Homo sapiens: one gene and its partner. The protein of the gene in region 1 purifies or fractionates together with the protein of each later gene. This does not show direct contact. Each region holds a gene or a part of one and is shown in the gene's direction. Other genes may lie near its edges.

Evidence for each region.
Region 2: the proteins of REG1A (region 1) and NAA25 purify together in Homo sapiens (co-immunoprecipitation; 2 studies listed by BioGRID and IntAct, with this or other methods). This does not show direct contact.

Annotation. Positions count from the first base shown.
Region 1 is NC_000002.12:79,116,276-79,123,490, forward strand, and holds REG1A (lithostathine-1-alpha precursor), read left to right. Parts: upstream 1-4,212; 5' UTR 4,213-4,239; intron 4,240-4,540; 5' UTR 4,541-4,586; coding exon 4,587-4,650; intron 4,651-5,286; coding exon 5,287-5,405; intron 5,406-5,712; coding exon 5,713-5,850; intron 5,851-6,565; coding exon 6,566-6,677; intron 6,678-6,872; coding exon 6,873-6,940; 3' UTR 6,941-7,134; downstream 7,135-7,215. UniProt on the Homo sapiens protein: Might act as an inhibitor of spontaneous calcium carbonate precipitation. May be associated with neuronal sprouting in brain, and with brain and pancreas regeneration.
Region 2 is NC_000012.12:112,105,783-112,112,819, reverse strand, and holds the start of NAA25 (N-alpha-acetyltransferase 25, NatB auxiliary subunit), read left to right. Parts: upstream 1-4,036; 5' UTR 4,037-4,046; coding exon 4,047-4,104; intron 4,105-7,037. UniProt on the Homo sapiens protein: Non-catalytic subunit of the NatB complex which catalyzes acetylation of the N-terminal methionine residues of peptides beginning with Met-Asp, Met-Glu, Met-Asn and Met-Gln. May play a role in normal cell-cycle progression.

The DNA of each region.
Region 1 (7,215 bases):
GTTTGTGACTTCAGATCAGAACTGTGTTGTTAATAGATGTTTAAAAAAAAAAAACAAATAAATTGTGGGGTAGGTATGGGTGCTTGATGTCTTATACTTATTTACATTTTAAGCTCTTCTTATGGTGTCTCTGGCCATAGCCATAATGAGTTTGTGGTTACTAAATCAGTCCTCAGAGGCCTAGATGGGTTGAACATGGAAATTACTTAATAAAAGAAACTCAGGTAGTTGGAATAACAAAGTGACCCTAAAGCAAAACTGCTTGTGTTGAATATAGTTCCAATAAATATCTGCCATTTGAATTGGTTTAGTTAGTTCTTCTCTGACCCTCAGTCTCTTCATTTGTTAAATATGATTCTTAATAGAACCTATATTATTAGGACGTCTTGTGGATTAAGTAGGTTCCTGTTAGTCAGCATTAGAATAGTCCCTGACACAGAGAGCATGCAATGAAAGTTTGTGTTAAATGGCCAGATGCAGTGGCTCATGCTTGTAATCACAGCACTTTGGGAGGCTGAAGTGGGTGGATCACCTGAGGTTAGGAGTTCGAGACCAGCCTGGCCAACATAGTGAAACCCTGTCTCTACTAAAAATACAAAAATTATCCAGGCGTGGTGGCTTATGCCTGTAATCCCAGCTACTTGTAAGGCTGAGGCAGGAGAATCACTTGAGCCTGAGAAGCGGAGGTTGCAGTGAGCTGAGATGGCACCACTGCACTACAGCCTGGGTGACAGAGTGAGGATCCATCTCAAAAAAAAAAAAGAAAAAGAAATTTTTTGTCAAATAAAACAGAGGTTTCCTGTGAAGCAGAAAAGGCTAAGTTATAAGTAAGTTTTCTTTATGTCTGCAGAACACAGCAGACCAGGGAAAGTCCTGAATGTATCTTGTATTTCTTGAGCTCCTTTCCTCTCCAGTCTAAGGTTTGCAGACAGGCTTCTATTCACATGCCTGCTAAGTATTTAAACAAGAGGAAAATTATTTCTCAATAACAAGTCTAAAATCTCTATTACAAGCATCAAAAGCAGAAAATACCTACTGGATGATGGCCAGTAGCACCATTTATCACCTACAGCCTTGAAACGTTCTAAGCCATATTAAGTCTTATCAAGAAATTGCCCCACTTGGGCACATATTAACCCTAACGTCCATGATACTTGTTTCTATCTCTGAGAAAATTAACATAAGGAATAGATGGGAAAGGCCTGAAATGAGCTTCTGGGAATCTTATAAAACTAGGTCAAAGGTCCTTGAAGTTCCTCAGAAAAATAAGGAAAATATTAAAGGGATTGAATGTATGGCTTTCCTGAAAAAGGAATTTCTCTGGGACCAAGGCTGCTACCAATTTATGTCCTAAATTTTGTTATCTTGCATGTGGAATTTGGCCAGTCACCTATGTAAGCAATAAGTGCAACTTCTCAATGGATTTACTGCTACTGGGGACAATAAAGATTTTTATGGGAGTACTTTGTCAATTGTTATTTGTTTTGAATCTCTGTTTTATGTCTTCCTGGTTGTAACATATTTTATTGTGTATTTTAGAGTATTAGGTCTTTTATACCTGGACAGTCATTTCTTGTTTGAAGTTATGTTAAATTTAGAAAAAATCTCATATTTTAAAAATATTTATTATAAAGTCATATGCATACATATGTTCATTGCAGCACTGTTCACTATAGCAAAGACATGGAATCAACCTAAATGCCCATCAATGATAAACTGGATAAAGAAAATGTGGTACATATACACCATGGAATACTATGCAGCCATACAAAAGAATGAGATAATGTCCTTTTGAGGGACATGAATGGAGCTGGAGGCCATTATCTTTAGCAAACTAACACAAGAACAGAAAACCAAATACTGCATGTTCTCACTTATAAGTGGGAGCTAAGTGATGAGAACAATTGAACAAATAGTGGGGAACAACACACACTGGGGCCTTTTGGAGGGTGGAACATGGGAGGAGGGAGAGGGTCAGCAAAAGTAACTAAGGGTACTAGGCTTAATACCTGGGTGATGAAATAATCTGCACAACAAACCCCCATTACACAAGTTTACCTCTGTAACAAACTTGCACTTGTACCACTTAACTTAAAATTAAAGTTAAAGGGTGGGTGTGTTAGCTCACGCCTGTAATCCCAGCATTTTGGGAGGCTGAGGCAGGCAGATCATGAGGTCAGGAGATCGAGACCATTCTGGCTAACACGGTGAAACCCCATCTCTGCTAAAAATAAAAAAAAATAAAAAAACTTAGCCGGGTGTGGTGGCGGATGCCTGTAGTCCCAGCTACTCTACTCGGGAGGCTGAGGCAGGAGAATGGCGTGAACCCCAAAGGCGGAGCTTGCAGTGAGCTGAGATTGAGCCACTGTACTCCAGTCTGGGTGACAGAGCCAGACTCCATCTCAAAAAAAAAAAAAAAGATTAAAGTTAAAAAAAGAAAAGAAAACATTATGCCATAAAGTATTTTTATCTTAGATTTTTTAAAAATTAATTGCTTGTTTAATTTTCACAAGATAAATATGTAATGATACCAAGTATACCCGACTCTTCCCTACTATATCCTTTGTTAACGGAAGAATATTTCTGAATCTCTTATTTATAGAAAAAAATAGGAATCATTCTCTGGTTGTAATCATTTTAAAAGGTATAACTACTTTTTGTAAAAGCAGAAAAAATTTGGATTAATTTAACAAATGCATATGAACCAGTGAGAATAAACAATGTTAACATTTGTCATCTTTGTTTAATATCGTTAGTTTTTGTTTTTATTTTTTGAGACAGTTCCCTGTTCTATCACCCAGGCTGGAGTGCAGTGGCACAACTCACTGCAACCTCTACTTCCCAAGCTCAAACAATCCCCCACCTTAGCCTCTTAAGTAGCTGAGACTACAGGCATGTGCCACCATATCTGGATATATATATATATATATATATATATATATATATATATATATATATATATATATATACTTTTTTTGTAGAGATGGGGTCTCGCTATGTTGCCCAGGCTGGTCTCGAATTCCTGGGCTCAAGTGATCCTCTCATCTCAGTCTCCCAAAGTGCTGGGATGACAGGCTTGAGCCACCACACCAGGCCCATCATCAGTTTTTATATAAAGAAAAAAAAACCTTAAAATTGTTAGGCAAATACTATGACAAATTGTAATATATATTCTTACATTTCAGATTTTTATTTTTTAAACTGTATAAGAATTGATTAATAAATAAAATTTAGTATTAATCTGTCTTTTAAAACCATATATAAAGTTTATCAAATAGCTTATAACTTCTTGCAACTGAATTTTTGTATTCAATGTTATGGCTTTGATACTAGTCCAAGTTGAAATATAGATATCTACTTTATTCGATTTAAATTCTGTTTAGTATTTTATTATATTTTGTTAATCCATTTGTCCCAATTCATATACTTATCTCTCTTTCTGTGAATATTCAGGTTAGTTTTTTCTTCCTAATTTTGCATTCTGATTGGCTTTTATTCCCTGAATTATAAATGACTATTCTATGATGATTCTGGTAAATACTCAATTTCACCACACAATCTTTGACTTCATACTAACAAACAGTTGACTTCAAATGGACAATTTCAATGAAGCCTGACTTCATATTTAGCTCCTTTAAGCTTCCTTAGGCATCAGCTCTCTACAATTCTCACATTGAGAATATGTGTATTTTGTTAGCTCAAACCTTGTTAGACATGTTAAATGTTTAGAAATATAAATTTAACCTACCCCTTGAGGTAGGTCTTGAGAGGTTTGTGAGCCTAAAAAGACATGGAGGAACCACTTATTGCCACAAGCACATTGTTCTAAATTATTTGGAATCAGTTAATTCTTCCCCATCTCCTACCCATGCCTGACACCAAAGAGGAGCCTCTAAATTTACAGGGAATACAAGGAAGTCTACTGTTCTCTGCTCCTCTCTGGGTTATTAGGGCACATGGGAGCCCTCAGTTGTTTTCTGCTGAGCAAGAGCAAAGTCCACCTTGGACTTAGACAGCTTGCCAAATTTTTTGCCAGAAGGGGACCTGAGTTGTGACCACTCCCAGTGTGTGCCGGGAAAAGGCTCGTACTGGTGCCAGAATCTCTTACTGTCAATGCTCCCAAAACTCACCGCTTGCCCCCACCCCTTTTGCTTAAATGACGTGGTTCTTATCTCAGATCCTGATATAAAGCTCCTACAGCTACCTGGCCTGAGAAGCCAACTCAGACTCAGCCAACAGGTAAGTGGGCATTACAGGAGAAGGGCGTCTCTAACATGCACTGTAGATCTAAAATCTTCGGGAAGATACAGCATGAGTTTCTGTCCAAGAGGTTTTAGCTGTAATGAAGCCTCAGTGGGATCCAAAGTTGTTTTTCAGTTACTGAGTCTGTATAATCCCCACTCTCAAGAGAAACATTTGAAGGTGTGGGTGTCTCAGAGGACCTTCCTGGTCTCAGAAATTCTGAGAGGAGGTTTTAAGGAAGGTAATAGGTGCTTTGCTCTCCATCTCTCAGAACCCCCTTCTCTGTGTTCTCCTATAGAGATTGTTGATTTGCCTCTTAAGCAAGAGATTCATTGCAGCTCAGCATGGCTCAGACCAGCTCATACTTCATGCTGATCTCCTGCCTGATGTTTCTGTCTCAGAGCCAAGGTAAGATCTCTTTTCCACCAACCAACTCTTTCTAGCCCTGAAGACTTCACTCTATCCCCAAGCATACGGGTCTACTTGAAAAAAAAAAAAAAAGCAGAGTCACTGTTAAGGGTTGTTTTGTGGTGTTTAGTGATCTTTATTGCTGATCTCTTCACATTTATATACATCCACACCTCATTAAGGAGTTGGAGCTAGAATTTAAAATGACCCCTTATAAGCAACTGCTGCAGTTGGCATGAGTTTATCTGATTAAATTTATACGTGATGGTGGATTTGGGGATGTCTGTGTGTAGACAGTCACTAATGGGGTGGAGAACTGAAGAGAGCCTTGTGTTCAGGGAAACCAAGTCAGGCTTGAGAAAGTAGAAGGCTGAGTCCTTCAAGGTAGAAGAGCCTGAGCTCCAGACATAAAAGGGAAACTGGAGACTTGTTTCTTTGGCCTATTCATTCTGTTTTTTTTCCCCTGATCAAAGAAACCAAAGACAGAAGATGTAGGATGCAGGAGCAATAGTGAGCAGTCATCCCATAATAGACTGGATTCTTCTGTTTCTATAAAGGAACCTCAGAAGCTCTTACCTCACCTTCAAGCCTTTTCCTTACCCTGAGAGCCTCCTTTAATTGTCTCTTCTTTTTCAGGCCAAGAGGCCCAGACAGAGTTGCCCCAGGCCCGGATCAGCTGCCCAGAAGGCACCAATGCCTATCGCTCCTACTGCTACTACTTTAATGAAGACCGTGAGACCTGGGTTGATGCAGATGTGAGTGAGGAGAGCAGTGTGGGAAGGGAGACTCATGAAGGGAGGGGAAGCTGCCACTCTCCAGTGTGTTCAGTGGCTGCAATGAGATGAGACTGAACCCCTTGCTATACTATCATCAGCCCCAAACTTTCCAATCTACTTTATCCCATTATTCAGCACATTCCCAGCACAAAGAACCTGGTGGTCAGTGACAGCATCATCACGGACATTACTCTGCTGTCCTTTTTCTGACCCGTCCTCTTGGAGGACTCAGTATATCCGTCACAACTTCCTCCTCCACTGAGTGCTCCATTTTCTTCTGCAACAGCTCTATTGCCAGAACATGAATTCGGGCAACCTGGTGTCTGTGCTCACCCAGGCCGAGGGTGCCTTTGTGGCCTCACTGATTAAGGAGAGTGGCACTGATGACTTCAATGTCTGGATTGGCCTCCATGACCCCAAAAAGGTAGGCTGCAGCCTTCTTTATCTCCTAATGATCAGGTTTGAGAAGTAAGAAGGAGGTTCAAGTTCTGGTCTCTTAAGTACCAGCTTTTATCGCTTTCCAGAAATCAGGCTGTTTACAGATCCTCTAATGTCCTGTGTAGCAAGGTGCACTGTAGATGATTGGAGATATAAGTGGAAGGCTGAATTTCCTAGGTGTTCTTGTCATTCATGAATAAACTTATTCTGTTTTCAGTCAACAAAGCATCTTTATGCACCAACTTCTTACCTATTTTGTTACTGTCAGAGTCACAAGAGAGACTAGATTGCCGACTATATAGGAAAGGAGACTTGTGGTAAAAATCTGCTGCTGTACTGCTGGCATTTGGGAACCTGGTAGTATACTAAATAATATAATATATCAACAACTAATGGTCAGCCAATGCTATGCTGGATATGAGGGTCCTGGGCCACAAAGACAAAAAATCAGGAACCACTTTTTAAGTGAGATACTTTGGGTCTCTGTCAAATTCATAACACTTATTTCTTGGTGGAATACAGTTAATGAGTTGGACAGTTCAGGAAAGAAGTTTAGAGCAATAGCAAAGGAAAGGAAACAATATTTAGCAAGGTTTATTCTTCCTTTGTGTCTTAGCATGTTTCTGAGTGTGCACACAGGCCCAGTGATTCCATGTATTTTTGAGTGACCACTGCCTCTGTTCTGGCCCTTCCCCATCTAGAACCGCCGCTGGCACTGGAGCAGTGGGTCCCTGGTCTCCTACAAGTCCTGGGGCATTGGAGCCCCAAGCAGTGTTAATCCTGGCTACTGTGTGAGCCTGACCTCAAGCACAGGTGAGAGGCAGAGAATCCATCCACCTGTTTCTGTTCTCTCCTGCTTAGCTCCAGGGATGGAACTGGGACTGGGATAGAGGAAAGGTGAACTCCTCATTAAGGAAATGGATGTTTGGTTTTTGTCCTGAGTCCTAAAGCCAGGAGGGTCATACTCTTTCGGGTCTCCCAGTTGTAACTCTTCTCATTGACTTATAGGATTCCAGAAATGGAAGGATGTGCCTTGTGAAGACAAGTTCTCCTTTGTCTGCAAGTTCAAAAACTAGAGGCAACTGGAAAATACATGTCTAGAACTGATCCAGCAATTACAACGGAGTCAAAAATTAAACCGGACCATCTCTCCAACTCAACTCAACCTGGACACTCTCTTCTCTGCTGAGTTTGCCTTGTTAATCTTCAATAGTTTTACCTACCCCAGTCTTTGGAACCCTAAATAATAAAAATAAACATGTTTCCACTATTGTGCTGTCTTACTGTGTCTGCTATTTCCACAGCTGATGCCTGGGTGGTTGAGATGAGAGTGATTACAACAAAGCTTGCT
Region 2 (7,037 bases), on another chromosome or scaffold:
ATATCCCACTAAGGATGGTGACCTAAGACTCTAGAAGCCTCTGCTAGGTAGATCCATATGATGCCCTGGTCTTGCCAAGTTCAGGGAGCTGGGTGCCAAGTCTATCAGCATTCCTCTGGGGCCAGGCCAACAAAGGTAGCGTAAGAACATGGCTGAGTAACCCGAGCCTTGGTTAGGAGCCTCATATGTGCTCCCCTTAAAGGTGCTGTATTTTTCCATTCCTGGGAAATTCTTAAATCTCAGGTGACTCATCATCTCTTTCACTTGCACCAAAGGTGAACCCCAGCTCTCCTCCCTCCTTTTCCCTGTCCTAGCCCAACCTCAGCAGGGTCACACACCATCTCTGAGTGATCCTAGGGTCAGCTTGCCTGAGGCATCTGCCCTTCATTGTTGCTGCTTAGCATGATTTGGGGGGCATGGAGTTTCCCCTAGCGCAGGGTTGCCCGATTTAGCAAATAAAAATACAGGACACCCAGTTAAATTTGAATTTAAGATAAACAGTGAATGTATGTATGTATGTCTCAAATATTTTGTTGTACTTTGCCTGATAACTTCATCCCGGGAGTCTTTGTTTGTTTGTTTTTGGAGAGTCAGGGTCTCGCTCTGTCACCCAGGCCGGAGTGCAGTAGTGCAATCATAGCTCACTACAGCCTCAAACTCCTGGGCTCAAATGATCCTTATCCAGGGAGTATTTATTTATTTATATATATTTTTGAGACAGAGTCTCCCTCTGTTGCCCAGGCTGGAGTGCAGTGTTGCAATCTCGGCTCTGCAACTTCCACCTCCTGGGCTCAAGTGATTCTTGTGCCTCAGCCCCCTGAGTAGCTGGGATTACAGGTGCGCACCACCCTGCTCAGCTAATTTTTTTTTTTTTTTTTTTTTTTTTGGAGATGGAGTCTCACTCTGTTGCAGGCTGGAGTGCAGTGGCACAATCTCGGCTCACTGCAAGCTCCGTCTCCTGGGTTCACGCCATTCTCCTGCCTCAGCCTCCCGAGTAGCTGGGACTACAAGTGCCCGCCACCACGTCTGGCTAATTTTTTTGTATTTTTAGTAAAGACAGGGTTTCACCGTGTTAGCCAGGATGGTCTCGATCTCCTGACCTCGTGATCCACCCACCTTAGCCTCCCAAAGTGCTGGGATTACAGGCGTGAGCCACTGTGCCCAGCCGCTCAGCTAATTTTTTATTTTTAGTAGAGATGGGGTTTTGCCATGTTGCCCAGGCTGGTCTCGAACTCATGTCCTCAAGTGATCCGCTCGCCTAGACCTCCTAAGTGCTAGGATTACAGGCGTGAGTCACCATTCCCGACCTCTGGAGTATTTAAATGCCTTCCTTTTTTTTTTTTTTTTTTGAGATGGAGTCTTGCTCTGTTGCCCAGGCTAGAGTGCAACAACATGATCTTGGCTCACTGCAACCTCCACCTCCCGGGTTCAAGCCTCAGCCTCGGGAGTAGCTGGGATTACAGGCACGTGCCACCACGCCTGACTAATTTTTTGTATTTTTAGTAGAGATGGGGTTTCGCCACGTTGCCCAGGCTGGTCTCAAACTCCTGACCTCAGGTGATCCACCCGCCTCGGCCTCACAAAGTGCTGAGATTACAGGCACGACCCACTGCACCCGGCCTATTTATTTATTTATGCAAGAGTCTTGCTCTGTTGCCCATGCTGGAGTGCAATGGCACGATCTTGGCTCACTGCAACCTTTGCCTACCGGGTTCAAGCGATTCTCCTGCCTCAGCCTCCTGAGTAGCCGGGGTTACAGGCTCACACTACCACACCCAGCTAATATTTGTATTTTTAGCAGAGAAGGGGTTTTATCATGTTGGCCAGGCTTGTCTTGAACCCCTGACCTCATGTGATCCACCCACTTTGGCCTGCCAAAGTGGTGGGATTACAGGGGTGAGCCACCAAGCCAGCCTTACCACACTATTTAAAATTACCTCCCTCTCTCACTGCCCCCCTTTCCTGCTTTATTTTTCTCAGTAGCATTTATCACCATGTAATAGGCTATCTACTTATTTATTGTCTGTCTCCCTCACTACAAATAAAAACTCCATTAAGTCTCTGTCTATTTTATTTATTGATGTATCCTCTGTGCCTAAAACAAGAGTGTGTCAAATAATAGGCACTCAATAACTCAGTGTTGTACGAATAAATCTATCTGTAAAAAGAGAGGTAATAATAAGATCTACCTCCCAGGGAAATACGATGACAGTTATGAAAATTAAATGAGAGAATAAATGTAAAGACCTTGCATTTAAATACTCTAGGCAGATACCGAGTAAGTATTCATCTAGGATGCTTCTTTGTTGGCTGAGTCCTGGGAGAAGGGTGTGTGGCAGGCCAGGTCTCACTAACACAGGCCTCCATAACAACTGTTTCAGTACTAACTGAGTGGTTAAGTTACATATTAAAAGCTAAAAAAAAAAAGCCAGTGCCCTTATACAAAGGATGGAATGTAACAAAAGCCCACCAAGAGTTTTGCCTAGGCCTTTCCTTGGCCTTAAAGCATGACAAAATAACGAAAGAATTCCTAACAGGACCCATTTAGGATTAAACAAATTTTATTGGGGGTCTGAAGTAACTCCCCAAACCTCCGTGATTTAGTAGGAGGCAAGATAAGGATAATCACCCCAGCACCTATTGCCATTTAGATTAAGTAAATTTACTGAGGCTTCAAAGGAAAGTCTTCAGGACTCAAACCTTAGTTATAGACTAAAGTGAGTTAATCAATTATTATTATTATTATTTTTTTTTTTTTGAGACGGAGCCTCCCTCGCCCAGGCTGGAGTGCAGTGCCGGGATCTCGGCTCACTGCAAGCTCCGCCTTCCGGGTTCACGCCATTCTCCTGCCTCAGCCTCCCTAGTAGCTGGGACTACAGGCGCCTGTCACTGCGCCCAGCTAATTTTTTGTATTTTTAGTAGAGATGGGGTTTCACCGTGGTCTCGATCTCCTGACCTCGTGATCCGCCCGCCTTGGCCTCCCAAAGTGCTGGGATTACAGGCATGAGCCACCGCGCCCGGCGAGTTAATCACTTATGTCTTTAGATGAATGCACATTTACACGTAGACATATAGCTTAGAAGGTATATAAGCTCTGGAAAGCTTTGTAATTTTAAGTTGGTCTGGTGATAATTTCCAGGCCTTCTCCCTGTAACTGGTTGCAGAAATAAAAACTCGCTTCCTCTCCAGTTCATCTGCATCTCCTTACTGAACCAGGAGAAACAGCAGCCTGACGCTCAGTTTGGTCCAGGAACAGGTGGTGGAGGGCTCTCGAACTTTTTTCTTTTTTTTTTTTTTTTTTTGAGATGGAGTCTCGCTCTGTCGCCCAGGCTGGGGTGCAGTGGCGCGATCTCGGCTTACTGCAAGCTCCGCCTCCTGGGTTCACGCCATTCTCCTGCCTCAGCCTCATGAGTAGCTGGGACTACAGGCGCCCGCCACTACGCCCCGCTAACTTTTTTTGTATTTTTAGTAGAGATGGGGTTTCACCGTGTTAGCCAGGATGGTCTCGATCTCCTGACCTTGTGATCCGCCCGCCTCGGCCTCCCAAAGTGCTGGGATTACAGGCTGAGCCACAGCGCCCGGCTCTCTCGAACTTTTTTGGCAGATTTTTGCTGTTGATCAGCCCCGCTTCCCCAACTTTCCCCTGGGTCTCTCTCCCCCGGGAGTTTCTGGTTCCTCTGCGATTAATCACAGCCAAGTCTAGCTGGTTCTTCAGGACGGAGAATAAATAGGATAAACAGGAGCAGCCGAACCCTAACTTTGAGAGCTTTCTCCCCTCCTCTCCTAACTTCCCAGTCAGTGACTCGGAAGACTTTAACAGCAACAGCTGCCTCCTCTTGCCAGCTTGATCCCACCTGCTAAGTGAAGGAACAGCGTTTAAAGAGGTGGCAATCGGCAAGGGTGGATGCTTCCCTTTCCGCGCAGGCGCGTTCAGTCGCAGCACCGCGACTATCGTGATAGACAAGCGAGATCGACGCTGGCCCTTTAATAGCCCTTTCCCGGGGTCCTGCCCCGCGCGTGCGCACTGTGGTTCTGCGCTTGTCATCATGGCGACGCGGGGCCATGTGCAGGACCCTAACGACAGGCGCCTCCGGCCCATTTACGGTGAGTGTCTTGGACCAGCCCGCTCGCCAGCCCGACGCGCCGAGGGCTGCCGAGGCTGGGGCGAAAGCCCAGGAGGGGTGCTGAGGGCCGGCGCGCGGGCCGGGCAGGCGCAGGGGGGCGGGCCGCGCGGGCCACTAGGCCGCAGCCGCGGGCCTCGCGTAGGCGCCGGCCCAACCTTCCTCAGCCTTGGGGTGGTAGTGGCGCGGTCTGGGCAGCAGCTGGTCGGCAGAGCTGGCCTGCTTGGCAGGCCCCGTGGGACGCGTGGTTCTGCAGACACCTGCGCTACCCGCAGGCTGCATCGTTACCGCCGCTCCTAGGGAGACCGGAGATCTCCCCGAAGGTGGAAGCCGGCTCCGGCACGAGGGTGGGACGCCCTGCCTGAGGGAAGATTCCCTACCAGAGATTTTTTTTTATTTACGGGAATTGGGCCTAGAGGGTTGTCTGACTAGGTGGGCTTCGGTGCATAGGAGAAACTGAGGTCCGGAGTGGGGAAGGGGCTGACGCAAGGTCACCCAGATCGAGTCAGGAGCAGGCCCGAGATTCCAGGCTCCCAATCCAGAGCTGTTGGGTGGAGAAGCAGCTACTCTGGTCACACGTGGGAGGCGGGGGGAGGGGGTCTTGGGCCTAAAATAGCGGTGAAGAGATTGTGATAGCTCGTGTCAGAGGGGCATGCAGAGCTACTGGAGGGCTTCTCCTTTCTGCAGCTTCTCTGTGGTTTTCTCTGCAGCTTTCCTTCCCTGTGCTAAGCAGATCCCTCTCCACAACTCTTACCTCAACCCGCAGACTTGAAGACCTTGATGTCATCTCATCCATTTACCCTGGTAGTGAAAAATCACAGATTTTGAGTTTGGGAGAAACCCTTTTCCAATAACCGAAATGTGTAATTGGATTGGTCCTTTTTGCATTTCCTTTCCTCTTAGATGGTTTTATGGTCTTGGTCTATCTCACTTAATGGTGAGGAAGCTTCAAGGTCAGTGGTTTTTACAAAAGTAGACATCGTATTTATAGACCTCATGTGGATGTTACTAAATTGGAGGCTTCTCTCCAAGGTGGGAATCGTTTTGGGAGCGGGGGGCGGTGGTTAACTTTGTTTCTGGCCACAGTTAGTCCGGCTTTTATTTCATAATTTGTGTGATTTTTTTTTTTACTCTCACATCTCATTTGATTTTAGCAACAATCCTATAGCTAAGGTTTATAGATGACTCATTATGACAGTCACTGGCCTTGGCCTTTTATATGGGTTATCTAATATAATCTTCACCCATTCTCAAGAGGTGGCTACTGTTTTTTCCTGCCCCTGAACCCTTTAACAACAACAACAACAAAAAAAAAAACAGATGAGGAAACTGAGGCTTTATTGTTGTTGTGTAATTTGTCTAAGGCCACTCAGTTAGTATTTCTTGGAGCTAGAATTTGAACCCCTGTGGACTGTTTCAGGCTCACCTTTTTTTTCTTTTGAGATGAGTCTCACTCTGTCGTCCAGGTTGGAGTACAGTGGCACAATCTCAGTTCACTGCACCCTCTGCCTCCCAGGTTCAAGCGATTCTCCTGCCTCAGCCTCCTGAGTAGCTGAGATTACAGTTGCACGCCACCAGGCCCAGCGAACTTCCATGTTTTTAGTAGAGACAGGAGTTTACCATGTTAGCCAGGCTGGACTTGAACTCTTGACCTACTCAGCCTCCCAAAGTGCTGGGATTATAGGTGTGAGCCACCATGCCTGGCTCCAGGCTCACCTTTTTTTTTTTTTTTTTTTTTTTTTTGGAGACAGTCTCATTCTGTCATCCAGGCTAGAGTGCAGTTGCACAATCACAGTGCACTGCAACCAGCCTCCGCCTCCTGGGTTCAAGTGATTCTCCTGCCTCAGTCTCCTGAGTAGCTGGGATTACAGGTGCCCGCCACCATGCCGGCTAATTTTTGTATATATTGTAGAGAATGGGTTTCGTCATGTTGCCCAGTCTAGTCTAAAACTCCTGAGCTCAAGCAGTCCTGCCTCAGCCTCCCAGAGTGCTGGGATTACAGGTGTGAGCCACTGTGCCTGGCCCAGGCTCACCTTCTTAACCACTGTGCTAGAAACTACCTCACTTTGAGCTGAAGACACTGATTTGCCTGAGGTCACACAGATGGTAAGTGGCAGAGAAAGGACTCTGATTTCCTATTTCCCCGGGGCTGCATATTCTCATGCCCTTGCCCTCCAGTGTATATTTTCAGAGGGCAGAGATATATATACAAGGTGGGTGATGGAAGGTGAGAACTGAATCCAGGGTTCATAGTTTGTGACTCATTACAGCTTTGTGCAGCAGCTGCCTGCAGACTTTTTTTTTTTTAAACTAAAAACACTCAATACTTTCAAGAATAATTTGATTTTTAAAATTGTTCTTGAGGACCAAAGAGAATTTCTTTGGTCCCATAGTTATTTAGAATTAATAGTGTTTTGACTGTCTAATGGGAAACACCATGTCCATTTCACATCACTAAACATCAGGATATATTAACAAGTTATATTCTCAAAACTGAAGTCAGAATTATGTAGCTTTTGTAACATGTACATGGGAAGAGGATTAGAAGAGGCTTTCTTCAGTAATTCTAAGGCGATTAGTATAAACTGGCAGGACTAGGAAAAGAACGGTACAGACTGTCCGTGAATTCAGCACTTAAGCACATTTGACTTTTGAACTCCACACTTTTGTTGTTTAAATACATTACTACCCCCAAACAACCATGGTTCCTTGAATTCAGACATTCTGACAAATGAACAAACTCATCTATGGTGGTACTTGCCCACCAGCCAAAAATTCAACAACTATCAGCATTAATTAGTGTTTACTGGTGGGCTGACTGCCCTATTAGGTAGGTAAGATTATTGTGATCAAACTGAAGCCTAGAGATTAACTTGCTCAAGGTTGTAGCTACCAAGTTGTAGAGCTGGGATTTGA